Linked DNA regions of Homo sapiens. The protein of the gene in region 1 interacts with the protein of each later gene in a pairwise test. Each region holds a gene or a part of one and is shown in the gene's direction. Other genes may lie near its edges. The genes, in order: NRAP, TRIM63, PRKAA2 and KLHL41.

Region 1 (7,201 bases):
CCTAGGGATTCACAAGTCTTATGAATTCACAAGTAATCCTAGGTTACTGAGAAGCCTAATTCTTTTAGGACTTTGTTTTCATCTCTTGGTGTCTGAGAGCAGCTACATGAAATTACAATAAATATTGAATCTAGCTCTTACTTAAACAGAGTACTGAACACTCTGCTAAGTTCTTTATATTATCTCATGTGTTCTTGACAAGAACCTTCTGTAATATTATTGTGTTATAGTTGAGGAAACTGAAGCTCAGAGAGGTTAAGTAACCTGCCTAGTTTACCCAGCTGGTTGGGCACAAATCCAGATCTGTTTAACTTTAGGATATTTATTAGTGGCTCTCTTTCATATATATCCAGAGGGTGGCAAACTCTCCAGAAGACAAAAAGCACTTGTTCATGTTTTCAAATATCCATATGTTTCTGCAGTTGTGTAGCGAGGATTTGACACATAAAACATGAGGAGATGTACTTTACCTCAGAATGCTGTTTGCATTTATTACAGTGTCTACAGAAAGATCCATAATGTCTGTATTTTTCCTCTAACTGAGCCACAGCAGGCATGTCTCCACCTTATAATCACACAACAGGTCACACACTATTTTCCTCTTTTTGAGGTGGGAGTGGACTCACTTTATTTTAACTGTGTATGACAGGCCCAACCTGGAGCAAGGCTAGGATTGTTGCTGGTTCTATTTCCAGCCACAGACAGTGATGTGAGCTTCCCAGGAAGCCTGCGTGTGTGTATTTGTTTGCGTCTATGTGACAGCGTATATGTGTGTATATATATGTGTATATATATGTGTGTGTGCATCCGGAGAGTGTGTATATGTGTGTATGTAGGTGTGAATGTGTGTGCACACACATCTATATGTGTGTATGTGATGTGTGTGCATGAGTATGTGTGTGCACATGTTCATGTGTATTGTGTGCATGTATTTGGTGTGTATGTGTTTATGCATATGTATGTATATGTACATGCATGTGGGATATGTATATGCATATGTGGTATGTATATATGTGTATATAGTGAGTGTATATATGTATGTATGGTGTTTATGTATGTATGTATGTATATATGTGTATATGGTGTGTGTGTGTGTGTGTGTGTGTGTGTGTGTGTGTTGTCTACTGAGATCACTTTCTCCTTTTTGCCCACCAGGGACAAAGTAAAACGGACAACCATATCCCTTACAGGGCCCAGCTCTTACAACTGCCCTAGGGTGTGTTATGAATTACCTTTTCACCTCCCTGTGATCTCTGGGAGACTTTGACAATTGAATAAAAAACAAATTCATTGTGAAAGTGCTAAAATCAAAAAAGGAAAGAGATTTTTCAGTGATGGTGATGAAGGAGAAAAGTAGAGATTTTAAGCTGGCATTCAAAGCAGATTTGCAGGTTTTTTGTCTCCTAAATGTCACCCTTTGAAAAATAAATAAATACTTGCAAAGACAGAATTTCCTGTTTGGTAGGTGTGAATGGAATTTTTAGAAAAATAAAACATCTAGGGTTTTCTTCTATTCAGAGAACGAAATTTAGCCCTTCATGCTTCCTTACCCCACTGGTAAGATTTATGGCATTTTTTCCTCTTTCTGTTTCCTTGGTGTAATCCTGAATCTCACGAAAGGTCCCTAGGGGAGGCAAACCCTCCCCAGTGGTAGATTTGCACTGGGGAAGGAGGACAGCAAATATAACTTTCTAGAAGTGGACAGAATATCTATTTTGGTCTTTTGGTCCTGTGTTTCTGATTCCTAAAGTACATTGTTCTCAAGGAGGGCAGTTCCCCCCAACCCCTACCTGGGGGACATTTGTTAATGTCTGGGACATATTGATTGTCGTGACTGGTGTTGATGGGGTATTATTGCATCTGGTGGGTGGAGACCTGGGATGCTCTTAAACATCTTGCTATGCCCGAGCCAGTACTCCACAACAAATAATTAACTGGCCCAAAATATTGGTAGTATTATTTGTAGGTAAAAACAAAAAACGAACAAACAAACAAAGCCCACTTTAAGTTTACGTAATGTTCATTTAATTGTTTCCTAAAAATACAAGGAAAAAGCATGTAAAGATCTCTCAGTGTATATATTTAAAAATATATGCATCAAGTAGCATTAAGCAGTAGCAACCCTGGAAAGTCAATATCAGAATGTGCCCTTGATAGGGAACAAGAATCCTTTGGGTTTAAACTTTTCTCTGAGCTTGTTTTCTTATTATGTTTAAAATTAAGAATTTAAACTTCAGCTTGTAAAAATTTCAGATTTCTTTCTTTCTTTCTTTTTTTTTTTTTTTTTTGAGACAGGGTCTCACTCTGTTGCCCAGGCTGGAGTGCAGTGGTGTGATGTCGGCTCACTGCAACCTCCGCCTCCTGGGTTCAAGTGATTCTCATATCTCAGCCTCCTGAGTAGTTGGGACTACAGGCGTGCACCACCATGCTCAGCTAATTTTTTCTATTTTTAGTAGAGATGGGATTTCACTGTGTTGGCCAGGCTGGTCTCAAACTCCTGACCTCAAGTGATCCACCTGCCTTGGCCTCCCAAATTGCTGGGAGTGCAGGCGTGAGGTACTGCGCCCGGCCAAAATTGCCGATTTCTGGGCCTCACTTCCTACCTAATAAATTTTGATATCTTAGTTTGGACCTAAGACCTTCTGATGTTTTTTCTTTTATAATTAGTCCTTTTTACATTTAAGAAATCTTTGTCTATCTCAAGGTTATGAAGATGTTACTGAGAGGTCAGTTTTCCCCCAATTAATCTATACATTCAAGGCAGTGCCATTCAAAATCCTGGTGTTTTTTTGTGGAAATGGACAGACTGATTCTGAACGAATATAAAAACACAAAGCTTCTAAAATAGCCAAGAAATCTTGAAGAACAAATTTGAAGGACTCACCAGATTTCAAGACTTACTCTATAAAAGCAGACTTACTCTATTAACTCAGCATAGAATTGGCACAAGAAGAGAGAAATAGACCAGTGGACTCCAACACAAGGTCCAGAAATAGGGCTGCACGTATATGGTCACTTGACTTACAAGAAAGGCATCACTGCAATTTAACATAGCAAGAATGATCTTTTCATAAACAGTACTGTAGTAATTAGGTATTTATATAGAAAAAAATGAACCTTGACCCTTATCTATATGTAAAAATTAACTCAAGGTGTATTATAAATCAGGATGTTAAAGGTAAAATTGTGAGGCATAAGAAGAATATCTTCATAAAATTGAGGAGCCAGCATTTTAATAAGCTCCCTGGGTGATGGTTACATGACTAAAATTAAGAACCAGTACTCTAATGCCCAATGTTTTCTGAGGTTACTCTAATTTGTATTGTGTGGTAGGTTTATAAAGACTTTATCTCAGTCACTTTAATTGCACTGCTTCAAAGAGCTTCACACACAGCAGGTGCTCTATATGTGCCACCTGGTTGGAGGTGCAGATTAAACCACAGGGAGACTGACAGCACAGTGTGCCTTGCAGCACAGTGAAGATGCTTTGCAGTTGAGACTTAGCAAAATCCCCCAATTTTAGCTAGGAATTGTTTGTCTATGTTTTTTTCTCTTTTCTGATGGAAACATTACTGACAACATCTTCCTTGAGCAGATCCATGACCAAGAAGATGGTGAACAGTGTAAATCAGTTTTTCACTGGGACATGAAATCCAAGGATAAGGAAGGTGCACCTAACAGGCAGCCACTGGCAAATGAGGTGAGAGAAAAGTGACAAGTGGGTTTGGAAAAAGAAAGAATGACATACTATGTCAATTGAGTGTATTATTATTATTACTTCTAGAGAAAACCAAGTAGGTTTCCTTTCACCCAGTTTGTAATTCCAGCTGTCTATGGAAGACCTCAATCAGCGTGTCCTAATATCACCTGAACTCTATCTTCCCCAGACCAGGTTCATTGTCTTCCCCTTCCAACCACTGTATTTCTATCACCCAGGTTTGAAACCAAGGCTACCCTGTCTTTCTCTGACACTTCACTCAGCTCCACCCTTTTCTCTCCACTCTCCCCGTTCTGATCTACATCATTTTCTGCCTGGACCTTTACGAGGCCTCCCAAGGTGGCTGCTTTCCCTCCTCTAGGCTGGCCTCTCTCCAGCCTGTTGTACTCACATGGGTCAGGAGGCTCCCAGCTTCCTAGGTGTCCCTGACTTACTCTTCCCACCTCCCCTGTCTGTTGACAGACTCATCATTTCAGAATTCCTTAGCCATTTATTTTATTTACACACATAATATACACATAAGAATTTGCATTATTCTTATTATAAAAAAAAATCCAAACAGTACAAAGCTAACCCTTTATCCACCACCTCCAATTCCAGTTTTCTTTGTACAAGTACCCACTCTCGTCAATCTTGTGGATAGCATCCTTCCAGACTTTTCTCTATTGATTTGCAAATAAAACCATATCTTTCTAGAATTTACATTTGGACATGCTACCATTTATTGAAGGATCTTAAATGAGTTATTTAACCATTCTTTACTTCAACTTTCTCATCTGTAAGGTGAACTTCAAAAACACTTCCTAACATAATGATATTGCGATGAACAAAAGATCTTAGAACAGTGGTAGGCACAATAAATATCAGCTAGTATTACTTGTTATTGAAAATTATATATGTATATATGTTATATAAACCCAAAAGTATCTGAGACAGGTCTCAATCCATTTAGAAAGTTTATTTTGCCAAGGTTAAGGACACACCCACGACAGCCTCAGGAGGTCCTGACAACCTGTGCCAGAGGTGGTCAGAGTACAGCTTGCTTTTATACATTTTAGGGAGACATGAGACATCAATCAGTACATGTGAGGTGTACATTGGTTCCATCTGGAAAGGCAGGACACCTCGAAGTGGGGGCTTTCAGGTTATAGGTAGATTTAAAGTTTTCTGATTGGCAATTGATTTAAAGAGTTATTAACTAAAGACCTGAAATCAATAGAAGAAATGTCTGGATTACAATAAGGGGTTGTGGAGACCAAAGTTTTATCATGCAGATGAAGCCTCCAAGCAGCAGGTTTCAGAGAGAATAGATTGTAAATATTTCTTATCAGACTTAGAGTATGTGTTGGTGTTAATGCTGGTCGGTAGGCTTTTCTTGAATTCCGAAAGGGAGGCGGGTATAATGAGACATGTTCGACCTCCCCCTTTCCATCATGGCCTGAACCAGTTTTGCAGGTTAACTTTCGAATGTCCTTGGCTGAGAGGAGGGATCTGTTCAGATAGTTAGGGGGCTTAGAATTTTATTTTTGGTTTACAGTATATTTCTATTAAAATGTATACTTTTTTCATGAAACAATATGCATTGTTGTGAAGTGTGTATTTTTCACTCAACAAATATCTTGGAAATATTTCTACATCAGCATCCTTTTAAGCTATCGTGAATGGGTGTATCATAGGTGCACCATTAAGTATGGATATACAAGGCCAGGTGCCATGGCTCACACCTGTAATCCTAGCACTTTGGGAGGCCAAGGTGGGTGGATCACCTGAGGTCAGGAGTTCGAGACTAGCCTGGCCAACATGGCCCATCTCTACTAAAAATATAAAAATTAGCCAGGCATGGTGGTACATGCCTGTAATCCCAGCTTCTCGGGAGGCTGAGGCAGGAGAATTGCTTGAACCCAGGAGGCGGAGGTTGCAGTGAGCTGAGATAGTGCCACTGCACTCCATCCTAGGTGACAGAGCAAGACTCTGTCTCAAGGGAAAAAAAAAAAAAAAATGGATGTACAATACCATACTATCCTATTGATAGACAGGATTATTCCAAAATTTTTTTTCTATTGCAAATTTGCAAGGAACATTCTTGTTCAAGACCTCTTTTGTATACAAGTGAGTGTTTTTCTAGACTAGATAATGAAAAAACAAAGTTGCTAGATCAAAGGGTATGTCCCTTTTAAATTTTAATGGAGGCTCAAATTGAATTCTAAAATAGCTGTACATTTTATACTCCCAAAGGCAGTGTGTGAGAATGCCTGTTTCCCAACATTCTAACCATCACTTGGTATTGTCAGATAAGTGTTTGGACAATCTGCATCTTGTTTCAATTTAGATGTCCCTGATTGCTAGTCAGGTTGAGTATAATTTCACATATGAATAATCTGTCTTTCTGGATCTCCAAAGGCTGGCTCTATCCAACCTGTCCAACTTGCCCCCCTCCAGCCCACCTGGCTCCCCATCTCTTTCCCTTGTGTCCAATCAAACCCAGCTCCTCATGGTCCTAATTACTGAGCCCATCACTGCCTTCATGCTTTTATTCATGGCAGCCTACATTCCTGGAATTTATTCAACAAATAATTATTGAGTCTATGAGTTGCTACACACTGTTCCAAGCTTTTGGGATGCGTTAGTAAACCAGACATGAAAATCCCTGCCTTCATGGAACGGACCTTCTAAAGTGGATGCCATTCGTTCTCCCTTGGCCTCTACTAATTGCCCTCAGCCCTGGAGGTACAGCTCAAATTCTATCTTCCTGCCCCATATGGGACCCATCTCTTACAGACTGCTTTTTAAAGATTCTTATTGTACTTATCACTCAGACAATACACTTAAACACATAACTGTTTTCTAATTGCTATTTATTTCATGTTAGTTTTATCTCCCAAGGTGGTAGGTCATGAGTATCTTAAAAGAGAAACTTTGCCTTTCCTTTTTTTTTTTTTTTTTTGCTTTTATTGCCATTGTCAGTTGTCAAGCACATAACAGGTAGTAGGTTTTTGACATTTGTCTGAATAATGTTGATTAATCTCAGATTACCTGTCCACAGTGATTTCCCCTCCTCCTCGCCCAATCTTGATGCAATGGTGTGCAAGAAAATGTTGTTACATTCAAAATTTTCCTGTAACATAAGTGGTTCTCAGAAAGTTCAATTATTTAGAATCTTAGGTCATTTTCTAGCCTGAAATAAATGAACATTTCAGTTAGCTGAGACCCAGGATTTACCAATAGGAGTTTATAATGTTTAAGAATATCTTCTTTTGACAATGTATGTAAGTGTTGCTGGGAGTCTGGGGCATGTGTTTGTATCCCTTCATGTGCTTCCTTTGTAGAGAGCCTATTGGACTGGATATGGGGAAGGGAATGCTTGGTGCCCAGGAGCTCTGCCAGACCCCGAAATTGTAAGGATGGTTGAGGCTCGAAAGTCTCTTGGTGAGGTAAGCACCCTAGAAATTGCTTTAGGAATTGGTTTAGCAATTACTTAGCAAT
Region 2 (7,083 bases), on another chromosome or scaffold:
CTACAGATGGGCAACACTACGACCAGCTAATTTTTAATTTTTTGTAGAGATAGTATCTCACTATGTTGCCCAGGCTGGTCTCACACTAACTCCTGGGCTCAAGTGATCCTTCCACCTTGACCTCCCAAAGTGCTGGGATTATAGGTGTGAGCTACCGCGCCCAGCCAAGAAACATTTGTTGAGTGCCTACTAGGTACCAGGCATTGGGGGTACAGAGATGAATAGAGACCATCTTTGCCCTCAATGTCTTCAAAGTCCAGAGAGAGAGTCGGACTCACAAGCAGACGATGGTAATACGGCAAGTGAGATGCAAAGATGGGCCATGCCTGACACAGAGATTAAGTAGGCATGTGATGAGAAGAAGAGGGAGCCCTAAGATGACTCTCAGCTTCCTGGTTGGTGCAAATGGGTGGACAGTAGTGCTGTTCACTAAGATGCGAGACAAGAAAAATGGAGGGAGGAGCTAGGTATCGGGGAAGATGGTGTATTCTGGCTGGAGTATGATGAATTTGAGATACTATTAGAACATCCCAGTAGAAATCTCCAACAAATCTTTAGCTTAGGGGAGAGAGGAGAAGTCGGAACTGGAATTAGAGAGTTGAGAATCATCAGCATATGGGAGTCGGAATCATGCAGGTTTATGAGGTGCTTACTGCTTCAAGTAACAGAGTAATTACACTATAATGGCATTTGTAATCTCACGTCTTAAGTAGTCAAGAGACAGGCAGCTCTAGGGTTGGATAAATTGGCAACAAAATGATGGCATCTCTAACCCAGGTGCCTCCTATGGTTCCTCTATGCTATCCTCAGGGTGTTGACATCATCCTCAGCCTTGTCCCCTTGTGGTTGCAAGATAGCTGCTCTACCCTCTCACAGCCCCATTCAAAGGTATGGACAAAGCTTTCTTCTTGCACATTCATTTTTATTGTGGAGGAAATCCTTTATCTTTAGCCAACAGACATATCCTTGGGTCTCATTGACCATAACTGCATCATTAGGCAAAAGAGAATGGGGTTGTATGATAGGCTTAAACTGTGTGTGACTCATCTCCTGAGGCAGTGGAGAGGGCCATCTTCCTGGAGCACAATGCTGCCAATGCCTGAACTAAACTGAGGTCCCATGAGCAAGGAAGAAGAAGTGGCCTTTTTTCAGTCAGTGTTGACTTGACCTAAACACAGTTCAATAGAGTCTACATGAGGAGCTTGGGTTCCTAAGTCAAGCATATTTGGGTTCATGTCCTAGAGCCACCTCGTGCTATCGGTGGGACCTCATACAAGTTATTTTACCTGTGTGCCTGAGTTTCCTCACTTGTGGAATGGGGATATTATGGGTCTTTTGTTATTGGCTATTGAGATGGTAAAATGAAATAATGCATACAAAGCATTTAGCACAATGCATAGCACATAGTAAGTGCTCAGCAAAACCTAAGTGCTCAGCAAAATTTTGGGGGGACAACTCTCTCCTCGAAATCCTCCAGCCCTTTGTTTTTAAGGCCTCTTCTTTTTTCTGTAACTTGTCCCTCTTCTTCTCCCATTTCCTCTCTTCCAAGGTTTGCTTCTCTGCTCTATGTCTTGTCTCATTGCTCCCATCATTCCTCTTTCCTGAAATCCTTCATACTCCTCCTGAGTATTCCACAGCCTCTTAGGCTCATCTTGGGCCCTGATACCACTGCTCCATATCTCTGCCCCATCGCCTTGGACCAGATGACCCCACAGTCCTTTCATTAGATGCTACCTTAAAAACAGCTACTGGAGGCCAGGTACAGTGGCTCACGCCTGTAATCCCAGCACTTTGGGAGGTCGAGGCAGGTGGATTGCCTGAGGTCAGGAGTTCGAGACCAGCCTGGCTAACATGGTGAAAACCTGTCTCTATTAAAAATACAAAAATTAGTCGGGTGTCATGACACATGCCTGTAGTCCCAGCTACTCAGGAGGCTGAGGCAGGAGATTCACTTCAACCTGGGAGGCGGAGGTTGCAGTGAGCTGAGATGGCGCCACTGCACTCCAGCCTCTGGGCAACACAGTGAAACTACATCTCGGGAAAAAAAAAAAAAAAAACCAGCCACTGGAACTGCTCTAATGACTTCTACTTGCCAACGTGGAAGATGTCCTAAAATACATGGAGAAAAGTTAAAATGTGTGCAGCGAGCTGAGGGACGCCTTCTAAGTGTCCAGGCAGGGCTTTGTGGCACCGCATGAGGGGTTTCCCTTTCTTTCTTTCTTTTTTCTTTTTCTTTTTTTTTTTTTTTTGGAGACAGAGTCTCACTCTATCACCGGGCTGGAGTGCGGTGGTGCAATCTCGACTCACCGCAACCTCCTCTTCCTGGGTTCAAACGATTCTCCTGCCTCAGCCTACTGAGTAGCTGGGATTATAGGCACCTGCCATCATACCCAGCTAATTTTTGTATTTTTAGTAGAGACAGGGTTTCACCATGTTGGCCAGGATGGTCTCCATCTCCTGACCTCGTGGTCTGCCCACCTCGACCTCCTAAAGTGCTGGGTTTACAGGCGTGAGTCACTGTGCCCTCTGGGTTTTTCCTTTCTATCTCCCTTCCTGGGCTGTGAGTTTCTTGGGGCAGGGAAACAGATCACTCATCCATCTGTCACGTTGTGATGTATACTAGTTACCTGATGTATACTAGTACTCAGAAAAATGTCTGATGAATGAATAAAATTTCTGTCTTTGCCACTTATTTTCTTTCTTTTTTGTTTTGTTTTGTTTTGTTTGGAGATGGCGTTTCACTCTTGTCACCCAGGCTGGAGTGCAGTGGCGCGATCTCAGCTCACTGCAACCTCCACCTCCTGGGTTCAAGTGATTCTCCTGCTTCAGCCTCCTGAGTAGCTGGGATTACAGGCGCGTACCACCACACCCAGCTAAGTTTTGTGTTTTTAGTAGAGACAGGGTTTTACCATGTTGGCCAGGCTAGTCTCGAACTCCTGACCTCAAGTGATCCACCTGCCTCAGCCTTCCAAAGTGCTGGGATTACAGGTGTGAGACACCACGCCCGGCTGCCACTTACTTTCCAACTGACTTTGAATATAATCCTTTTCTTCTCTAGTCCCATTTCAAAATCTGTAAGATGAGGGGACTGGACTGTGTTTCAAAGGAGGCTTTTCAGCACTAAGTGAAATAAGTGGCCGAGGGATGGAGGATGGGCTGGTTGGAGTGGGGGTCTCCATCATCTCCAGCAAAATGCTGTGCTGAAGTCTGAGGCAGAGGGATGGGCTCAGAGAGAGGGGCTGCCCGACCCTTCCATCTAGGAGCTGCCCAGGACTCCAGAGGAGGGGATGGAATTGATTTAGGTCAGTGAGGGGTTGCGTGGGGCTGGGAGGGGGTTGAGGTTGGGAGGCTGAAGGAGGAGACTCCCTTCAACCTGGGAGGTGGAGGTTGCAGTGAGCAGAGATCGTGCCACTGCACAATCCTTTCTATCTCCCTTCCTGGGCTGTGAGTTTCTCGGGGCAGGGAAACAGATCACTCATCCATCTGTCACGTTGTGATGTATACTAGTTGCCTGATGTATATACTAGTACTCAGAAAAATGTCTGATGAATGAATAAAATTCATTCATCGAACATTTTCATCATAGCATTGGCTATTAACCCCTTGAATCCCCGTGGCTCACTTGCTGGGTCCCATCCCTGACCCACTAGCCTGGTGCCGGGGGGAGACCAATTTCTGGAGGAAGCTCTGGGTACCCAGTCTTGCCCTAAGCCTGCCTCTGAACAGGCTGTTCTTGTTTATGACCCCCGTCCCAGCAGAATAGTGATTGCTCATCCCTGCATGTGATTTGAGAGGGCCAGTCTTTCAGGCCTGGAGGAAACTCAAGCCCCACCAGCCGCTTGGCATCGGAATGCTCAGCTGGTCCCCTCCTGGGGCTCATGTGACCAAGATCTAGCTATAAATATCAGAGGGGCCTCAGACCAAGACAGAATTCGGGCACCAGGAGAAGGAAGCCAACAGGATCCGACCCGGTGTTTTGTGACAAAGGCAAGACCCCCAGGTCTACTTAGAGCAAAGTTAGTAGAGGAGGCAGCTAGGCGTGGCTCTCATTCCTTCCCACAGAATGGATTATAAGTCGAGCCTGATCCAGGATGGGAATCCCATGGAGAACTTGGAGAAGCAGCTGATCTGCCCTATCTGCCTGGAGATGTTTACCAAGCCAGTGGTCATCTTGCCGTGCCAGCACAACCTGTGCCGGAAGTGTGCCAATGACATCTTCCAGGTAAGTGCCGGGTGCAGCTTCATTTGGGGTCCCCAGGTGGCTACTTGGCTTCCCTGTGATGAAACCCTTCTCCCTTAGACTTCCAACCTGGACAGCCTCTTTCCCCTTGGAAGTGAACCCCTGCAGAGGCCTCTGGACAGGGCTGAGAGGGGGCTGGGAGGCGGCTCTGGCTGCTGCGGTTCTTCTCCATAACACAAGTTTCCCCTCCCTGCCCTGCCCACAGCTCCCCCACCCCTGCCCTGAGCACTGCTGTTGACTCTCCAATCAAGAGTCAAATGCCTCAAGTGATAAGCGGGGTAGGCAGGGACAGGAGAGAGAAACCAGACCCCTGGGGCTGGAGCCAGGTCCTGGTGGCAAGAGGCCCAGAGCTTTGGGAGGAGGGTGTCAGGGAGGCAGTGGGCAGTAGAGGCATCTTCCCTTTTGAGGCTGTTCCCTATGATATGGGGGCAGAAGGGGCTCCAACTCCCCGAGAAAGGAAGGGGGTAGATGTCCTGGCTGGGAGGCAGGATGCGAGGTTCCCCATGGACACTTTACAAAATGTTCTTTCACGATATTATCTTTAAAGTAGCAGCCTTAGGAGCTTGCTCTCATTGTAATACCTATTTCATAAGTGGGCAAACTGAGGCCTACACAGATAAGGTTGCTTGCCCAAAATCACTCAGAGAATAAACATGACTTGAACCCAGGTCTCCTGCCTCCCCATCCTGACGATTGCTTAGCTGCTTCTCAGGTGCTCTGTGTGTGAGGACTGGTTCTCATCACAGTCTGCAGAGCTCCAGGTTGTTAGGTTTGACGGGGGTGGTTCGGATAGGCAGAGGAAAGGATAAGAGGAGATTAGAAAAGAGAAGGGCTAAGTAGGGAGCCCAGGCCTCACCTTGACCTTTGCCACCTGCAGGCTGCAAATCCCTACTGGACCAGCCGGGGCAGCTCAGTGTCCATGTCTGGAGGCCGTTTCCGCTGCCCCACCTGCCGCCACGAGGTGATCATGGATCGTCACGGAGTGTACGGCCTGCAGAGGAACCTGCTGGTGGAGAACATCATCGACATCTACAAACAGGAGTGCTCCAGGTCGGTTCTCGTGCCTGCTGGGGGCCCGCCCTCCTTCCCAGCCATGCTGTGCCTAGATCCCCCACGCTCCTTCCCCCTCCTTCATCTGCTCAGGATCCAGGCCTCTAGCTGGACTAGCTACACAAGCCATTCAGAGACAGGACTGGAGACCCATACACCCCAACCCAGCTCTCAGGATTGCTCAGCGGATGGGAAGGGGCCCAGACATTAGGCTGCCCTTCCAGGCAATACCAAGACAGAGACTGGGGGAAAGATGAGATGTGAGAGGGAGAGAAAGGCCCTGGGGCCAGCTAAGTGGCTCTGGTCAGCAGAGAAAATGCCCGGTGAGAAACAGCCAGGTTGTCTATAAGGATAGCAACAGCTACTCTCCCGTGTGCCATGAGGAACAGCGTCAGGCACTGGGAATGCTTCATCTAAGTACCTCCCAATAACTCTGTGAATCAGGCATGACTTTATTATCCTCATTTCACAGATGAGGAAACTGAGGCTCAAGAAGTGAAATCAATTAGCTAAGGTTTCCCAGCTGGGAAGTGAAAGAGCTGGGAGTTGACCCAGTCAATCTAGCTCTGAGTCTTCCTGCTAATAAAATAGCAGCTCATTCATAGGCAGAATGTGTGAGTGGTGGAGGTTGTGAAGGGTTGGCCTCAAACTGGGGAGAGAGGGCCAGGCATGGTGGCTCATGCCCATAATCCCAACACTCTGGGAGGCCAAGGTGGGATGATTGTTTGAGGCCAGGAGTTCAAGACAAGTCAGGGCAACATAGTGAGACCCTGTTTCTACAAAGTTTAAAAACTAGCTGGGCGTGGTGGGGCATGCCTGTAGTCCCAGCTCTTCAGGAGAATTGTTGAGCCAGGGAGGTCAAGGCTGCAGAGCCATGATTGTGCTACTGCACTCCAGCCTGGGTGACAGTGAGACCATGCCTCAAACAGACAAAAACACTGAGAGGCCGGGTGCGGTGGCCCACACCTGTAATCCCAGCACTTTGGGAGGCCAAGGTGTGTGGATCATTCGAGGTCAGGAGTTGGAGACCAGACTGGCCAACATGGTGAAACCCCGTCTCTACTAAAAATACAAAAATTAGCCAGGCGTGGTGGCGCGTGCCTGTCATCCCAGCTACTTAGGAGGCTGAGGCAGGAGAATTGCTTGAACAAGGGAGGCGGAGGTTGTAGTGAGCAGAGATCGTGCCACTGCACTCCAGCCTGGGTGACAGAGTGAGACTCCATCTAAACACACACACACACACACACACAACACAACACAACACAAAAATTTGGGAGAGACACAGCTCCAGGAAAGATCTTTACAAATCAGGACATCCTGGTAAGACTCCAGGAGTGCTGACCTCACAGCCTTTAAGGTCCAAAGCCTTCACCAAGGCATCTGCCTGCAGGCAGTGCCCAGCCCAGGGGAAGGTGACAGACCAGATCTCAGGTGAAAAAACCCTGACCCGGGGAACTGTGCTTGCTAGTCAGCCTCTGTGACTAATGTACTGTACCATGCTGGGTAAGCCTTTAGAGCTTCATTTCCTCTGTCTGCAAACAGAAACAGTAAGATCTGTTATTGTGGCTGTCAAATAAGATATTAATGGAAAATGGTTAATGTATCAACCATTTATTGGGTACCTATTGTGTGCAGGCGCTGTTCTAAGTACTTTCAGGCATTTTTCCTATCTGCTTCTCATAGTAACCCGGGAAGGCATTCCTGTCTCCATTTTACCATGAGGAAATGGAAGCTCAGAGAGGATCAGAGATTTGTCCAAGCCCACACAGCTAGCAAGTGGTAGAGCTAAGAGA
Region 3 (7,201 bases), on another chromosome or scaffold:
ACCTCTTATAGCAGACAGCCCCAAAGCAAGATGTCCATTGGATGCACTGAATACGACTAAGCCCAAATCTTTAGCTGTGAAAAAAGCCAAGTGGCATCTTGGAATCCGAAGTCAGAGCAAACCGTATGACATTATGGCTGAAGTTTACCGAGCTATGAAGCAGCTGGATTTTGAATGGAAGGTAGGAAATTATAATGTAATAAGATCATTTGTAGAAGCCATTTTTCTATATTATAAGCTGCTCTGAGCTCCTGAGTTGAGTATTAAGCCCAACTTTTTCTAGTAATATGCTATGCACATTAAAAACAAAACAAATAACCTCTATAAGGATGAAAAGTGGTTGATACTGGGAACCAACATATTTTGAATTATAGAAGTGTTCTTGGTCAAGAAAAAAGTAATCAACTAGAAATCATCTGAGAAAATAGCTTACCAGTTTCAGCATGCATCATAGCAATGAAAAATCATGAGTGTCTTCAAAGATAGTATGTTTTTACTTTCTCTTTTTTTTTTTAGGGAGGTTATTTTTCTTTTCTCTTTTTTTTAGGTGACAGAGGCAGGTGGCTGTAATAGCTAGTGGTTGATACAAATTATATCATCAGGACATATTTATTCAGTCAATAAACACTTTTCTCCAAGTTGTGATATTCTCTTTTATTTGGCTAGTGCTTTTAATACTTAGAGTACATTTTCCTTACTCTCAGCCCACAGTTTGCTTTTCTTAAAAATTAGTGCTCAATTTCATTTGAGTTCTATTTGAATATATGTGTGGGGAGGGGCATTTTTTCTTTTCAGATATGCCTTTCACTCTTGTTCTTTTCTTGAGGATTGTGAACTTTTAAAGGAAGAAGAAAAATGTGCAAACTTACCACATAAATATGCATTTGACGTGTTCAAATAAATCAGTCATTTTCATTTTATTATTTGTACATGAAATGAATATTTTCTTAAAATCATTTAAAAAACAGATCTCTCTGTTTTGGAGCAGTCTTATTTAGTTAAAAAAGAGACGTTAACATTTTTAAAATTCTGTACTGAAACATTTTGAAATTAGTACCACAGATGTTTTGAAAACCCAAAGCAGTGTTGTTTTTTTGTTTATTTTTTGTTGTTGTTGTTTGTTTTTTTGAGACAGGGTCTCACTCTGTTGCCCAGGCTGGAGTGCAGTGGCGCGATCTTGGCTCACTGCAACCCAGGGTCAGGCTATCCTCTCACCTCAGCCTCCCTAGTAGCTGGGACTACAGGCGCCTGCCACCACACTCGGCTGATTTTTTTTGTATGTTTTTGTAGAGATGGGGTTTCACCATGTTGCCCAGGCTGGTCTCAAGCTCCAGGGCTCAGGCGGTCCACCCACCTTGGCCTCCCAAAGTGTTGGAATTACAGGCGTGAGCCACTGTGCCTGGTCCTCTTTGTTCCTTCTACTCCATAATCATCCATGAACATGTTCAGGCAGAGACTGGACAACCAAATTAGAATTGATGTTTTAGAGTTGATGCTTATCTAGAGTGAAAGCTGGACCCTATGTAATCTCTGGGTTCTCTTTAAGTTTTTCCTTTATCTTTCACTTTTTTCTTCAGTACCCCAAATTTATTCAAGTAGCTTTTCCTTTAAATCTTAATTGCCATACAGTACTGCTTAGTGGGGATTAAATAAATACTAAAGTGAACTACCAGTAATATAAAAAAATTATTCGTATTCCTTTCCTACCTCACCCCTATTAATTATTTGTTTTGACTTTTTTTGCATAAAAAGGTAGATATTTTGTAGTTTATTATTTTTATTGATTTTTCACTTTAGGTAGTGAATGCATACCATCTTCGTGTAAGAAGAAAAAATCCAGTGACTGGCAATTACGTGAAAATGAGCTTACAACTTTACCTGGTTGATAACAGGAGCTATCTTTTGGACTTTAAAAGCATTGATGGTAAGGAAGCTATGCATGCATGAGCTCTGAGAAGATAAAACTTGGCACTAGTTGACCAGATGTTAAAATCATCTCGAAGACATCCGGTGGGTAGGTCCTGCACTGGTTTTTAAGCAATCTAGACTTAACCAAAATGTAAGTGAAGTGAAAAGGATGAAAGACATGTTGAATACCTCTTACCTGGCATCTTTCCACAAGAAGTATCTCCGTGGCGTAAAAGAATCATTTGAAGTGTTGGCCGTGGAGCACAAGTAAGGAACAACAGGGAAGCAGGTTTTACTTTTCAAAATTAACTGACTTGTCAGATTCTTTGTCATATTTCTCCATTCATATTTTATTAGTTAGTATTATAGTGTCTAAACTTTCTCCTTCATCACCTTTCCTCATCCTGGGTGGCCAGGGCGACCAAATAGGTCTCCATTGGGATTTGGGTTGGATTTAGGTACCCATGGCAATCAAGGAGCCAAAGGCGTCAGGGAAAATTGTCATGTCCAAGAACTTAGTGTGTGCCAAGAATTAAACTTGGGTAAACCAAATCTGATTATTCATTTCAGAGGCCCAAGTGGGATAAAACCAGAATAAACTAAGGGTCAGGTGCTGGATGGAACAAGAATGGAACGGAGTTTAGAGTTAGGGAAGTTGTTTTAAACGAAGCATTTAAATTTTACTCTTGAACTACCATCAACTATGTATGGTAGTGTTTATATGGATCCCAGACCTGTTTCATCGAAATTACATGTTGTTGTTATTAAAACGCAGATCCCTGGGAACCACTCCAGACCTATTAAATCAGAATTTCTGGAGATTGGTCCTGGGAATCGTAGAAAATGCAGTTTTAACAAGATTTCTCTCACTTTGCCCTCCACCTCCCCAAGGCAATATATGATGGTGACTTTTGTTTTTACCTTAGTGATTTTTTTTGTTGATATGCTAGAAGAAAATAAGTTGTCAAGGATATGCTTTCTTCACATGCAGAGATATCAGTTTGATTCCAATATCAATGCCGATTACTCCAATTTGAGCAGGACTTAGGGGCCACATTTTGACTGTGTGCAAGTCTTGTGATTGGTAGCGATGTTTGTTATGATTGTTGGAAGGAAGAAGACTGTGTTTCTACAACACAGAAACATGACATTCATTATTAAGTTGCCCTTGCTCAGATGTGTTTACTTAATATTCTGAATATCATAAATTCATAGGAAGGGCTTGGGCATATATACTTTCCATATAAATTGCTCTTCTTTGGTCCATTTCAGATGAAGTAGTGGAGCAGAGATCTGGTTCCTCAACACCTCAGCGTTCCTGTTCTGCTGCTGGCTTACACAGACCAAGATCAAGTTTTGATTCCACAACTGCAGAGAGCCATTCACTTTCTGGCTCTCTCACTGGCTCTTTGACCGGAAGCACATTGTCTTCAGTTTCACCTCGCCTGGGCAGTCACACCATGGATTTTTTTGAAATGTGTGCCAGTCTGATTACTACTTTAGCCCGTTGATCTGTCTCTAGTTTCTTTCTGTTATTGCACTATGAAAATCAGTTATATTCTTTAAATTTTTATCTTACTTTTGGATAATATCCACTGCAATACTAATTGAGAAACATGAATTATTTCCAGGGGCACACAATGCTATTGAAATTACTGAAAACAAAATATCTGACATCTTATTTACTTGTAGAAATCTGTAATTCTATTGTGCCTATGATAAATTCACATAGGCAATATCTTTAATAGGTTAATATCAATGAAGATTTTTAATTACAATAATGAGTTCACTACAGACGATTAACACACCACACTGGCGAACCATCTCAATGTAAGGGTGGTTTGGCAACACCTCCTTGCTTTGCTGTTTGGTGTAGGTAAATCTAGTTTACTTCCTAAATTTCAGTAGGCTTTATGCTGTGTTTATGCCCCCAATTTATTTTAACAAAAGAAGATTAAAAAGTAAAAGAACCACGAGTAAGATATTATTTAAATGTTGAAATCTTAAAAACCTGCCTCCAAGATTTCAGAAGCCAAGTTTTTCTAACAGTATTTGTACAAATACTGCCTAGTGTATTCAACAGAAGGACTGTGGTCATGTAACAGGTAACCACAATTTTCAGGTTTCTTAAAAACAGCTGTAACTAACTCAGGATTTTTATCTTGAGATTTCCCTGAATAATATATTTATCTTAAGAGCCTTCAAGTTTCAAATTAATATTGGAACATCTGGAATTGCAACAACTTTTGTCTTTTACATAAACTTACGTCATTTAAAAAATGTCTTCAAAATCTACCTTTCTCAAATTCTTTTTGCCTCTATTTATTTTTGCATTTCACCAACAGTGATAAAATAGTTAAATGAAACAAAGCAAAGTATCAACAGTCCCTTAAATGAGAATCCTTATCTTTGATCTTTATTTTCTGTGTTAGGTGTTAGGGTCCTGGTGCAGCTCATAATGCTAATTCTTCATTGGAAGCCACTCCCTTCACCTCACCTCACCTAGTCACTATTGTCTTTGTTCATTGTTTGATCCTGAGTGGTTGATTGATATAGCTTTGAATCTTTTCTAGTCCAAGTTTGAAAACACTGTTCTGGCCCTAAGGGCTGGCTATGACCTTTACTGTTGAACCTGATAGGGCAGGGAAGCTTTGAACATCAAGAAAAAATTTTTATCTTAAATAAATAAATATATATATTCACACACCAGTGCTTTTAAGCAAAAACCAGTTTTTTTGTTTGTTTGTTTTGCTTTGTGCAGGTTTTCTTTAAGATTAAAAAAACACAAACTATAGCAGGGTAGATAATAGTTTATTGATTATATTTTGTTTTAGTAAAAGTATTTAATTTTAAATTCTGTGTAATTTATCTAATTTGTATTTATTCATTTGTTATTTTTATGTTGTAATTAACACTTATTTACCTGGATTACCCTAAAAAAATTAAGCTCTTGAAAACAAAAAAATGACATTACCTTGACAGGCTTCTCTTTGCCAAAAGTAATGTATGTTCTGCCAAGAAGCAAATGAGAATGTTAGACTAAGTTTCTCCTGTGTTAGTGGAAAACAAGTGTGTCTATCTTTAAATATTCTTTGAATCAGGAGTTTGCGTTGTGTCACATCATATGGCTTTGCAGATCTTTTAAAAACTGATGTTAAATAACTTATAAGTCCAACTTCTTAATATCAAGATAAATGAATAGTTCACCAATTTGGGAAGGAGGGCGGGTTGCAATTTGAGATAGTTTAAGGTTTAATTATTGAAAGACTGCCATCTTGTGGCACCAAAAGGTAATTTTTACATGATTATTTGTATAGTGATAAGCAGTCCTGCTGTGTTAGCCTGGTCCATTATAGATATGGCATAGTTTTGGGTTCTCTAAATGGGTCCATACCTCTTTTGGGAAAAAACAGGGCCACCTCATAATATTTGCCTGATTATGAATGGAATTACCTTAGAAATAAGGAACTAATCAGATTACTTAACCCCAATGACAAAATCCACAAAAATTTTGAAGGCAGAGAAACAGAAGGAATCCAGTGATGTTTTAGCTCCATTAGTCTAATAGGTCAGATATTAAAAAATTGTTCATATCAAAATTACCTTATATGGATTATTGCCATGTTTTTTGAGAGTTAATTATTTACTGTTTTCTAATTCTTGCCAGTATTTATGAACAGCTGTAGCTTGATATTTACCTACTGAATTTTAGGAGAACTAATGGTCACAGTTTGGGTTCTTTTATGTGTATGTTTTTAAAACAGCTATTTTGTGAATCTAGGTGGTTGGTTTTTAGAAGATTTCAGGAGATGCAGTCCAGCACAATTAGAGCTGGAACATTGTTACAGCAGGCTTTTTGTTGCTCATGGGCAGATAGAGGGAAAGAATCAGTTGTTAGCCCCAAATTTCCACATTTCAGTGTTGTAAACTCTGAATGTGATAGGTAGATGTGGGCTAAGAATAATTTCCTCCAGTGAAGACACGGGAGAAGAGCTTCTATTATGAGGTTATAGATAAGGCCTTAGTTATATCATGGAAATGGACTCCATGTAGTTCTAGAACTGCATTTCCCAAAGTATATCCTGTGAGATGCTCCACAGAAAAAATGATTGCATGGACTAAGTTTGAAAAATGTTGCATGCTACTCTTCCCCTCGAAGATGACAGTGGATGTCAGCATTAAAGACTTTGACAGGTCTTTCTGTGAAAAAAAGAAAGCCACATAACTTTGTTGAACTTTGCCCAAATTAATTTTTCATTTTAAAAAACTTAATAGCCCATGAAAAGCAAATTTGGGAAATACATTTTTTAGGAAAATACTGTCCCAGAATGCCATAATTAGGGTAGTTAATAATTAACACTTCCATTTCTCTTACTGGTTGTTGGGAGAATCTGATTGAAAATTAGAATTACTTTGTTTTAACTTGCAGACATGTTCATCGTGAGTGAATGCTGGATTAAATAGAATTTTCTGTGTCTGCAACTTGTTTCATGACACCTTGGTTTTCTTAATCATCTTGTATTATTATTTGAGTGCAACATTATTCTTATGCATGGGTGACTGAAAAACCTGAAACAAGATTACTTGTTAAAAAAAAGTCTAAGAGACTAATGACTCATGCTTATGGCTCAGTGGGTAATGAATCAGTGTCACTGATTCTTACTTTTAAAATGTGTAGTCAGTGAACATTTTCTAAATACTTTTCTTTGGGATACCATATGAAGATCTAATTCCTTATGTTTCAGTGTAGGAACAGCTACCTTCTCAAATAGAATATGCAGGGAGGGAAGTAGGCAAACCATTTACAAGTTGGGTTTTTGTTTTGATTAACCTGTTAAGAGACACTTTTGTAATCTCTAGTGTTTACATTCCTTTATACTAGCTATCTATAAAGAGAATCCAGAAGGCTAAATTAATCAGAAATAATTATATTTCTATGTCAGGGTATTGGCTATATGTAGCATGAACAATTCTCCATTTTCTGCAAATGGGTTTTTCAGGACAGTTTTATAATTCTGAGTTTGCTTTTTCTTATTCCCTAGACAGTTTGTACTCAGGGAATACAAATTGATTTTTACTGTTAAATGAGACATAGTTTAGAAAAAATCATAAGCAACTATTGTAGATTTTTGATCTGTTTGGATTTATCTGTAGCATTGAATAATGTGCAGTGTACTGAGTTAATGTAGGCACCTCACTTTGGATTTATAAAATGTAAAAACCTGGAACATGCCTGCCACAGACACCACTTTGTCTATTCACCGGGTACTAATTTACATCCTATTAATGGTTG
Region 4 (8,118 bases), on another chromosome or scaffold:
TTTAGAAAACTTCAGTTTTCGGCCAGCGCGTCGAGGGAGGGGCCAGCGACACATGGCCTAGTAACCGTCCGGCCGCGGCGCTGGCTTAAGCCATGGCTGAGGGTAGCTGGATTCCTCAGGCCCGGGCGCTCCTACAGCAGTGCCTGCACGCCCGGCTGCAAATTCGCCCAGCCAATGGGGACGTTGCGGCCCAGTGGGTGGAGGTCCAAAGAGGACTGGTGATCTACGTGTGCTTTTTCAAGGGAGCTGATAAAGAACTTCTTCCCAAAATGGCCGAAGCTGGACTGTACTGCTGCCATCTCTGGCTCACTGCAACCTCCCTGCCTGATTCTCCTGCCTCAGCCTGCCGAGTGCCTGCGATTACAGGCGCGCGCCGCCACACCTGACTGGTTTTCGTATTTTTTTGGTGGAGACGGGGTTTCGCTGTGTTGGCCGGGCTGGTCTCCAGCTCCTAACCGCGAGTGATCCGCCAGCCTCGGCCTCCCGAGGTGCCGGGATTGCAGACGGAGTCTGGTTCACTTAGTGCTCAATGGTGCCCAGGCTGGAGTGCAGTGGCGTGATCTCCGCTCGCTACAACCTCCACCTCCCAGCTGCCTGCCTTGGCCTCCCGAAGTGCCAAGAGTGCAGCCTCTGCCCGGCCGCCACCCCGTCTGGGAAGTGAGGAGCGTCTCTGCCTGGCTGCCCATTGTCTGGGACGTGAGCAGCCCCTCTGCCTGGCTGCCCAGTCTGGAAAGTGAGGAGCGTCTCTGCCCGGCCGCCATCCCATCTAGGAAGTGAGGAGCGCCTCTTCCCACCCGCCATCCCATCTAGGAAGTGAGGAGCTTCTCTGCCTGGCCGCCCATCGTCTGAGATGTGGGGAGCACCTCTGCCCGGCCGCGACCCCATTTGGGAGGTGAGGAGCAACTCTGCCCAGCCGCCCCGTCTGAGAAGTGAGGAGACCCTCCGCCTGGCAACCGCCCCGTCTGATAAGTAAGGAGCCCCTCTGCCCAGCAGCCGCCCCGTCTGAGAAGTGAGGAGCCCCTCTGCCCAGCAGCCACCCTGTCTGGGAAGTGAGGAGCGTCTCCGCCCGGCAGCCACCCAGTCCGGGAGGGAGGTGGGGGGGTCAGTCCCCCGTCCGGCCAGCCGCCCCGTCCGGGAGGTGAGGGGCGCCTCTGCCCAGCTGCCCCTACTGGGAAGTGAGGAGCCCCTCTGCCCCGCCAGCCACCCCGTCCGGGAGGGAGGTGGGGGGGTCAGCCCCCCGCCCGGCCAGCCGCCCCGTCCGGGAGGGAGGTGGGGGATCAGCCCCCCGCCCGGCTAGCCGCCCCGTCCGGGAGGCGAGGGGCGCCTCTGCCCGGCTGCCCCTACTGGGAAGTGAGGAGCCCCTCTGCCCGGCCAGCCGCCCCGTCCAGGAGGGAGGTGGGGGGGTCAGCCCCCCGCCCGGCCAGCCGCCCGGTCCGGGAGGGAGGTGGGGGGGTCAGCCCCCCGCCCGGCCAGCCGCCCCGTCCGGGAGGTTAGGGGCGCCTCTGCCCGGCCGCCCCTACTGGGAAGTGAGGAGCCCCTCTGCCCGGCCACCACCCCGTCTGGGAGGTGTACCCAACAGCTCATTGAGAGCGGGCGATGATGACAGTGGCGGCTTTGTGGAGTGGAGGTGGGGGGAAGGTGGGGAAAAGATTGAGAAATCGGATGGTTGCCGTGTCTGTGTAGAAAGAAGTAGACATGGGAGACTTTTCATTTTGTTCTGTACTAAGAAAAATTCTTACCCTAAAACTTAAAGTATAATAAAAAAAAAAAAACTTCAGTTTTCTAAAAATTATATTTAAAATTGTAATCAAAATGTACCTAGTTTATAAATGTTTATTTTGTACTTAATACCTGTAAAGTCTTAGTTTTCAGACATTAAGTGACTGTATCATGTTCGGTTTAATAAAGAATTTATGCAGCACCATTTAACGTTTTGAAAGTATTATTTAAAAGAAAAAGACTATTCTTACGGAATAATCAAAATTCTGCTTTCTTAATTGTAAAAATCTGGTTTAAATATCCCATGGCTCCTGGCCAGGCATGGTGGCTCGTGCCTATAATCTCAACACTTTGGGAGGCCGAGGCAGGCAGATCACTTGAGGTCAGAAGTTTGAGACTAGCCTGGCCAACATGGTGAGACCCGTCTCTACTAAAAATATAAAAATTAGCTGGGCGTGTGGTGGGCACCTGTAGTCCCAGCTACCTGGGAGGGGCACGAGAATCACTTGGACCTGGGAGGTGGAGGCTGCAGTGAGCCAAGGATCGCACCACTGCACTCCAGCTTGGGCAACAGAGCAAGACTCCATCTCAATAAATAAATAAATAAATAATCACATAGCTCCAAATGTAAACCAACTCTAATACAAATTGTAATCCTTAAACCTGTCATTTTTGTAAAAACTAAAAATTACAACTAACTCTGGAATACATCAACCCCCCCCTTTAAAGTGCTTTGGATGCTATTTTGTAAGAATTTCAATGTAGTTTTGGCAAGAATACATTTACTTTGTAAGAAAATAGCTTTGTTTATTAACTTTCTCTTTGTATTTATTGAAACTTCTTTGAATTTTCAAAAATAGGATATTATTTTTCTCATTTCTTGGTTAGGTAAGACTTGTTGACCTCTCTAGGATCATTCGGTGTTTTTGACCACTGTTTCCGTGTAAAACACATTGTAAGGAATCTTTTTCAAATAATTGAAATTAGCCAAAGGAGCCCTCTTCTTCCAGAGGGAAAAGTATGTAAAAACATTTAAAATAAGATGCAAGTCTGTGTACAACCATAGACATACAGTACAACCAAGTGCTAACCTAAGTTTATTAAAAATCAACAAAAGCTACAAATTGGCTTCTTCATTTAAATGGAAAAGGATTTCTACATTTTAAGGGTTGGAATTATAATAAACCACCTTTAAGACGAGGGGAAAGAATGTATGAAAAATTTGTACTGGTCACAGATAAAATGCTGCCATAACTATTGTTTAAATATTGTTTTTTTCAAGCAAAAGAGACTATAAAATTGCTGACTAGTAAGGAATAATCTCAAATGTCATATGATGTTTGCATCTGACTCATTAATCTTTTCAAATGTTAGATGTTACATGTAGAGAGAAATGAGTCATTTATTGTTTAAACAAGGAAGCAGCTGTTAGTTTTTTCTGGTGTGTTAAAACCTTTAGTGGCATCTATAAATGGAAAAAGAGTCAATGAGCTCTTCTTTCAGCTGTTGTTTTAGCAGCTGACAGTACCATTGACTTCACTGTGATGTAAAATAAAAGAAAAGGCCTTTACTCATGGATAGAGACCTTGAAGTTTAAAAATACATAATTCCTTGATCTGGGGCATTCATTCATTCAACAAATACTTATAAAGCACTCACGAAACCCCTACGCTATAGCATTTGAAAAGAACAGACACTCCCACAATCCCTGTCTTCATGGAATTTGTTTTTGGGGGTATGTGTAAAAATACCAACTTTTGAAATTACAGTATTTCTACAGCCCTACTTGAGTTCAGATAATGTGACAATATGACTGTGTAATAAAGTATTTAATGGGCCCAGTGCGGTGGCTCACACGTGTAATCCCAGCAATTTGGGAGGCCGAGGCAGGCGGATCGCGAGGTCAGCAGTTCGAGACCAGCCTGGCCAACATGATGAAACCCTGTCTCTACTAAAAATACAAAAATTAGCCAGGCATGGTGGCGGGTGCCTGTAATCCCAGCTACTCGGGAGGCTGAGGCAAGAGAATTGCTTGAACCCGGGAGGCAGAAGTTGCAGTGAGCCGAGACTGCGCCATTGTACTCCAGCCTGGGTGACAGAGCGAGACTCTGTCTCAAAAATAAATAAATAAATGAAAGTATTTAATGAAGTATATTATACCATCTATATATAAACAAAGGACCGATTTTCTTTCAAATCATTACTTCTACCTCCATAATTAATATGGTATTCTATTATAATCAACAGCCTACGTTATGTCCCCAGTTATATACTCTTTAAAAAAAGGGGGGGCTGTTCTCTATGACCATTGTAGGAGTTCATCTTGATTTTGCTGTGTTTAGTGATAACATTGTTCTCATGGGGTTATATCTGTTCTATTTTTCACGTTTTATTTAATGAATGATAATTTTTGATATTTAAAATTACAGATTATCTTTTGTGATCTTATTTGAATGTGTGTGGACTTTTTCGTTCCCTAGATTGACTTTTAATTATTTTTTCTGGCTCTGTGATTCCTTTTAACCTTTTGCTTTTATTTTACCTTATTATCGTTTGCCACATTAGATCATTTGTATGACAAGGCAGGATATGAATAAATAATTTTATAATTTAATTCAATATTAATTACAGTTTTTCCATGTAAGAATAATTTGGAATGTTTTAGAAAATTAGCAATTCCTCTGCATTTCTTTTTTCAATTATCATGGCAACATTAAAGGTTTTGTAAAACTAGTACAGAAGTAAACATCTTTAAGTTTACTACTTCTAAAAGAAATATCTATATCCCACTGTTCTGAGTAGAAAGTAAAAATTTGTATGTTAACAATTATTGGAAATGAGATCTTGCTTATGAGTATTCAAATGAACACATCTCATATTCTTGACCTTTGCATCATTAATTCAGAGAGCCAAGTAGCTTGACACTAGAACATATTTAGAGGAGTGACTCATTTTTATGATTCATTTTTCTGTTAATTCAATAAACATTTTCTTGTAGTAGCCTTTATTAGTATATCTTCTAATGTGTTATGTATTTTTAAGCTTTCAACTTCACTTAAATGTCTTGTTTCTTAGCTGTTTCCCTAGTGATTAAAAGTTCCAGTTGTTACTTTCAATCTATAACAGCTGCAAGAACAACTCTTCTTTCCAAGCCAGCTCTCCTAAATTCCCGTTGTTAGAGTTGGTATCTATATTTAGCTAGTGGGATTAAATTGCAAAGGCTTCAAGCTGGGCAAAGCACACTGATCTGCCTTTTTACAGCTAGACCTGTGTGCTGCAAGGAGCTAAGGCCTTCAGTGTCCCCTTCCTTACCCAGGTTTCTCACAGAATGGATTCCCAGCGGGAACTTGCAGAGGAACTGCGGCTTTACCAATCCACCCTTCTTCAGGATGGTCTAAAAGATCTCCTGGATGAGAAAAAATTCATCGATTGCACCCTAAAAGCAGGTGACAAAAGTCTTCCTTGCCACAGATTGATTTTGTCAGCTTGTAGTCCTTACTTCCGTGAGTACTTTTTATCTGAAATTGATGAGGCGAAAAAAAAGGAGGTAGTGCTAGACAATGTGGATCCTGCTATACTTGATTTAATCATCAAATACCTGTACTCTGCCAGTATTGATCTCAATGACGGAAATGTGCAAGATATTTTTGCATTGGCCAGCCGCTTTCAGATCCCCTCAGTGTTTACTGTCTGCGTTTCTTATCTTCAGAAAAGACTTGCTCCTGGTAACTGTCTAGCCATCCTAAGATTAGGACTTCTTCTTGACTGCCCGAGACTCGCCATTTCTGCCCGTGAATTTGTGTCTGATCGCTTTGTACAGATTTGTAAGGAAGAGGACTTTATGCAACTGTCTCCACAGGAACTGATCTCAGTCATTTCAAATGACAGCCTAAATGTAGAAAAAGAAGAAGCAGTATTTGAGGCAGTGATGAAATGGGTGCGAACAGACAAGGAAAACAGGGTTAAAAACCTTAGTGAAGTGTTTGATTGTATCCGTTTTCGCCTTATGACAGAAAAATATTTTAAGGATCATGTTGAGAAAGATGATATAATTAAAAGCAACCCAGACCTCCAGAAAAAAATCAAAGTTCTAAAAGATGCTTTCGCAGGCAAACTCCCAGAACCTAGCAAAAATGCCGCGAAGACTGGGGCTGGTGAGGTGAATGGTGATGTTGGTGATGAAGATTTACTTCCTGGTTACCTGAATGACATTCCCAGGCATGGAATGTTTGTAAAAGACCTCATCCTCTTGGTTAATGACACAGCAGCAGTGGCTTATGACCCCACGGAAAATGAATGCTACCTTACTGCACTGGCTGAGCAGATTCCCAGAAATCATTCCAGCATTGTTACCCAGCAAAATCAGATATATGTGGTAGGAGGACTATATGTGGATGAAGAAAATAAGGATCAACCTCTACAGTCATACTTCTTCCAGGTAAGAAGGACTTTTTGTATATGTAGTTGCTTAAAGGGAAGGCTGTTACTCACCATCCAGTTAGCCAATTTGTGAATTATTCAAGCTGCTTGCATTTTACTCTAATTGATGTCCTATTCCAGTCCCTTGCACTTTTGCTGTATAGAGCGTTGACAGAAAAATATTTGACTGCTTTGTTAATGTGTAATAAAAAGTTTGGTGAATAATGAGGTTCTAATTCATGTTTAATGACTTAAGATGTTCTTTATACTATTTTACCAAAAATGCCTTGTTTATAGATGATCGTGACTGTAATCCCTCAAAGCCCAGTATTTTAGTAAAAACTAAATTTATTTTTTCTTAGCAGAGATGGGCTCTCACTATGTTGCCCCGGCTGGTCTCGAACTCCTGGGCTCAAGCAATACTCCCAGTTTGGCTTCCCAAAGTGCTGGGATTACCGGTGTGAGCCACCACCCCCTGCTGTAAAAACTAAATTTAATCTTGTATACTCTTACCTATTAAAAATAGTTAATGTCTTTCCCCAAATAGTTTCCCTAAATCAAAGTTCTTATCCATTATAAAGAAGTAATAATTGGTCAGATTTTCTTTTTTAATTTCTTTTTCTTCTTCATCTGCTGGCAGCTCTAAATTGGTCAGATTTTCTACCTTCTTCCAAGTTTCCCTGAACTTCATTTGAAGTTCTTGGAGGTAGCACTTCATCTCTTATTTATGGTTACTGCCTAAAATATAATTTTGTTGAAAATGAAAAAAACTTGTATATATATTCCACACACTTTGGATTATCTTCTAGGAAAAACTGTCTACACAAAAGTCGCTAATTTGAATTAATTATAGTTAGAAATTTTTATTATATCACATTTATTTGGATCAGAGATACATTTAGACATTATTAGAACTTAACAATCTGTTTTGTGAAACCACAGAATTTTCCAAGAAAATTAATTCTCCTAAACCAATATACCCTTAGTTGTTTGAAAGGAATTTGTCTTATATTATCAATGTGTTATACTTTATCAGTTTATGAAGGAGTTGGCTTAACCTTTGTCTTCCATAATGCCAATACCGAAACTTTATAGCTTACAACTGGCTCAAAAGAGTTTGTTTAGGTCATAGCTAATCATGGCTGGGGCTTATGGGCACTTTAGTTGGAAAGGCCAAAGATAAGCAAGTATACAATGTCATACCACAGTCACAGTATGCTCTCAAAGTGTGTGATATACTTTGCATTCACAAAATACTATTATACCTTTAATCAACTTTTTCTAATCTTGAAAAATGTAGTTGTGATAATACATATTAATCATGTTTCTTAATTTTCAAAGTTCCAGTGAAGAATGTTATAAGTATTTGAATGTGGGTCAGAAAATTTCCCAAGCCCTAATTTTAAAGTCAAATAAACGTCAAAAGTGGCAAAGTCAATGAAAAAGGCTATAAATACATCCAGGAAGTAAGAATGTTATAAAAACACAGATAGACAGATGACAGACATATAGGTAGATACCTACAAATGACAGATCCACGGAATAGTTGTTGCCATGGAATGATTCTCCAAAATTACTGGAGTTTTAAATTTCATTTCATATTTAATTTATTGAATATATCTATAACACGGTCCTTTTTACTTTCAAGTGTTCAGTTTAATCTTTGTCCTCTTCCAGCCTAATAAAACCCTTACTTTTACTGACGCAGCTTCTCATTTTTGGTTCAAGAAACCTACTTAATGTTCTGTATAACAGAACATTAACAATAACAGTTATACAAAGTTGGAAGGTCAGCAAAGCAAATGCCTTGCTGCTTTTAAAAGGCACTAATAGAACGGTATGCCAGGATAAAAACACTTCACCATAAAAGAGGGTTGTGACTCATCAGACAATATTTACATGAGAATTTCAGGTTTTATATTTTTCTGCTTGGTCACATCTATTTAAAATGCATTAATTTAGGAGTAATTTGACCTTTGA

The links.
Region 2: the proteins of NRAP (region 1) and TRIM63 interact in a two-hybrid assay, tested with the Homo sapiens proteins (one study listed by BioGRID).
Region 3: the proteins of NRAP (region 1) and PRKAA2 interact in a two-hybrid assay, tested with the Homo sapiens proteins (one study listed by BioGRID).
Region 4: the proteins of NRAP (region 1) and KLHL41 interact in binary tests that used the Homo sapiens proteins (3 or more experiments, as listed by UniProt).

Annotation. Positions count from the first base shown.
Region 1 is NC_000010.11:113,653,969-113,661,169, reverse strand, and holds part of NRAP (nebulin-related-anchoring protein), read left to right. Parts: intron 1-3,595; coding exon 3,596-3,700; intron 3,701-7,044; coding exon 7,045-7,149; intron 7,150-7,201. UniProt on the Homo sapiens protein: May be involved in anchoring the terminal actin filaments in the myofibril to the membrane and in transmitting tension from the myofibrils to the extracellular matrix.
Region 2 is NC_000001.11:26,064,475-26,071,557, reverse strand, and holds the start of TRIM63 (E3 ubiquitin-protein ligase TRIM63), read left to right. Parts: upstream 1-3,927; 5' UTR 3,928-4,063; coding exon 4,064-4,222; intron 4,223-5,117; coding exon 5,118-5,290; intron 5,291-7,083. UniProt on the Homo sapiens protein: E3 ubiquitin ligase. Mediates the ubiquitination and subsequent proteasomal degradation of CKM, GMEB1 and HIBADH.
Region 3 is NC_000001.11:56,704,295-56,711,495, forward strand, and holds part of PRKAA2 (5'-AMP-activated protein kinase catalytic subunit alpha-2), read left to right. Parts: coding exon 1-181; intron 182-1,797; coding exon 1,798-1,924; intron 1,925-3,180; coding exon 3,181-3,419; 3' UTR 3,420-7,201. UniProt on the Homo sapiens protein: Catalytic subunit of AMP-activated protein kinase (AMPK), an energy sensor protein kinase that plays a key role in regulating cellular energy metabolism.
Region 4 is NC_000002.12:169,504,732-169,512,849, forward strand, and holds the start of KLHL41 (kelch-like protein 41), read left to right. Parts: upstream 1-4,970; 5' UTR 4,971-5,047; coding exon 5,048-6,157; intron 6,158-8,118. UniProt on the Homo sapiens protein: Involved in skeletal muscle development and differentiation. Regulates proliferation and differentiation of myoblasts and plays a role in myofibril assembly by promoting lateral fusion of adjacent thin fibrils into mature, wide myofibrils.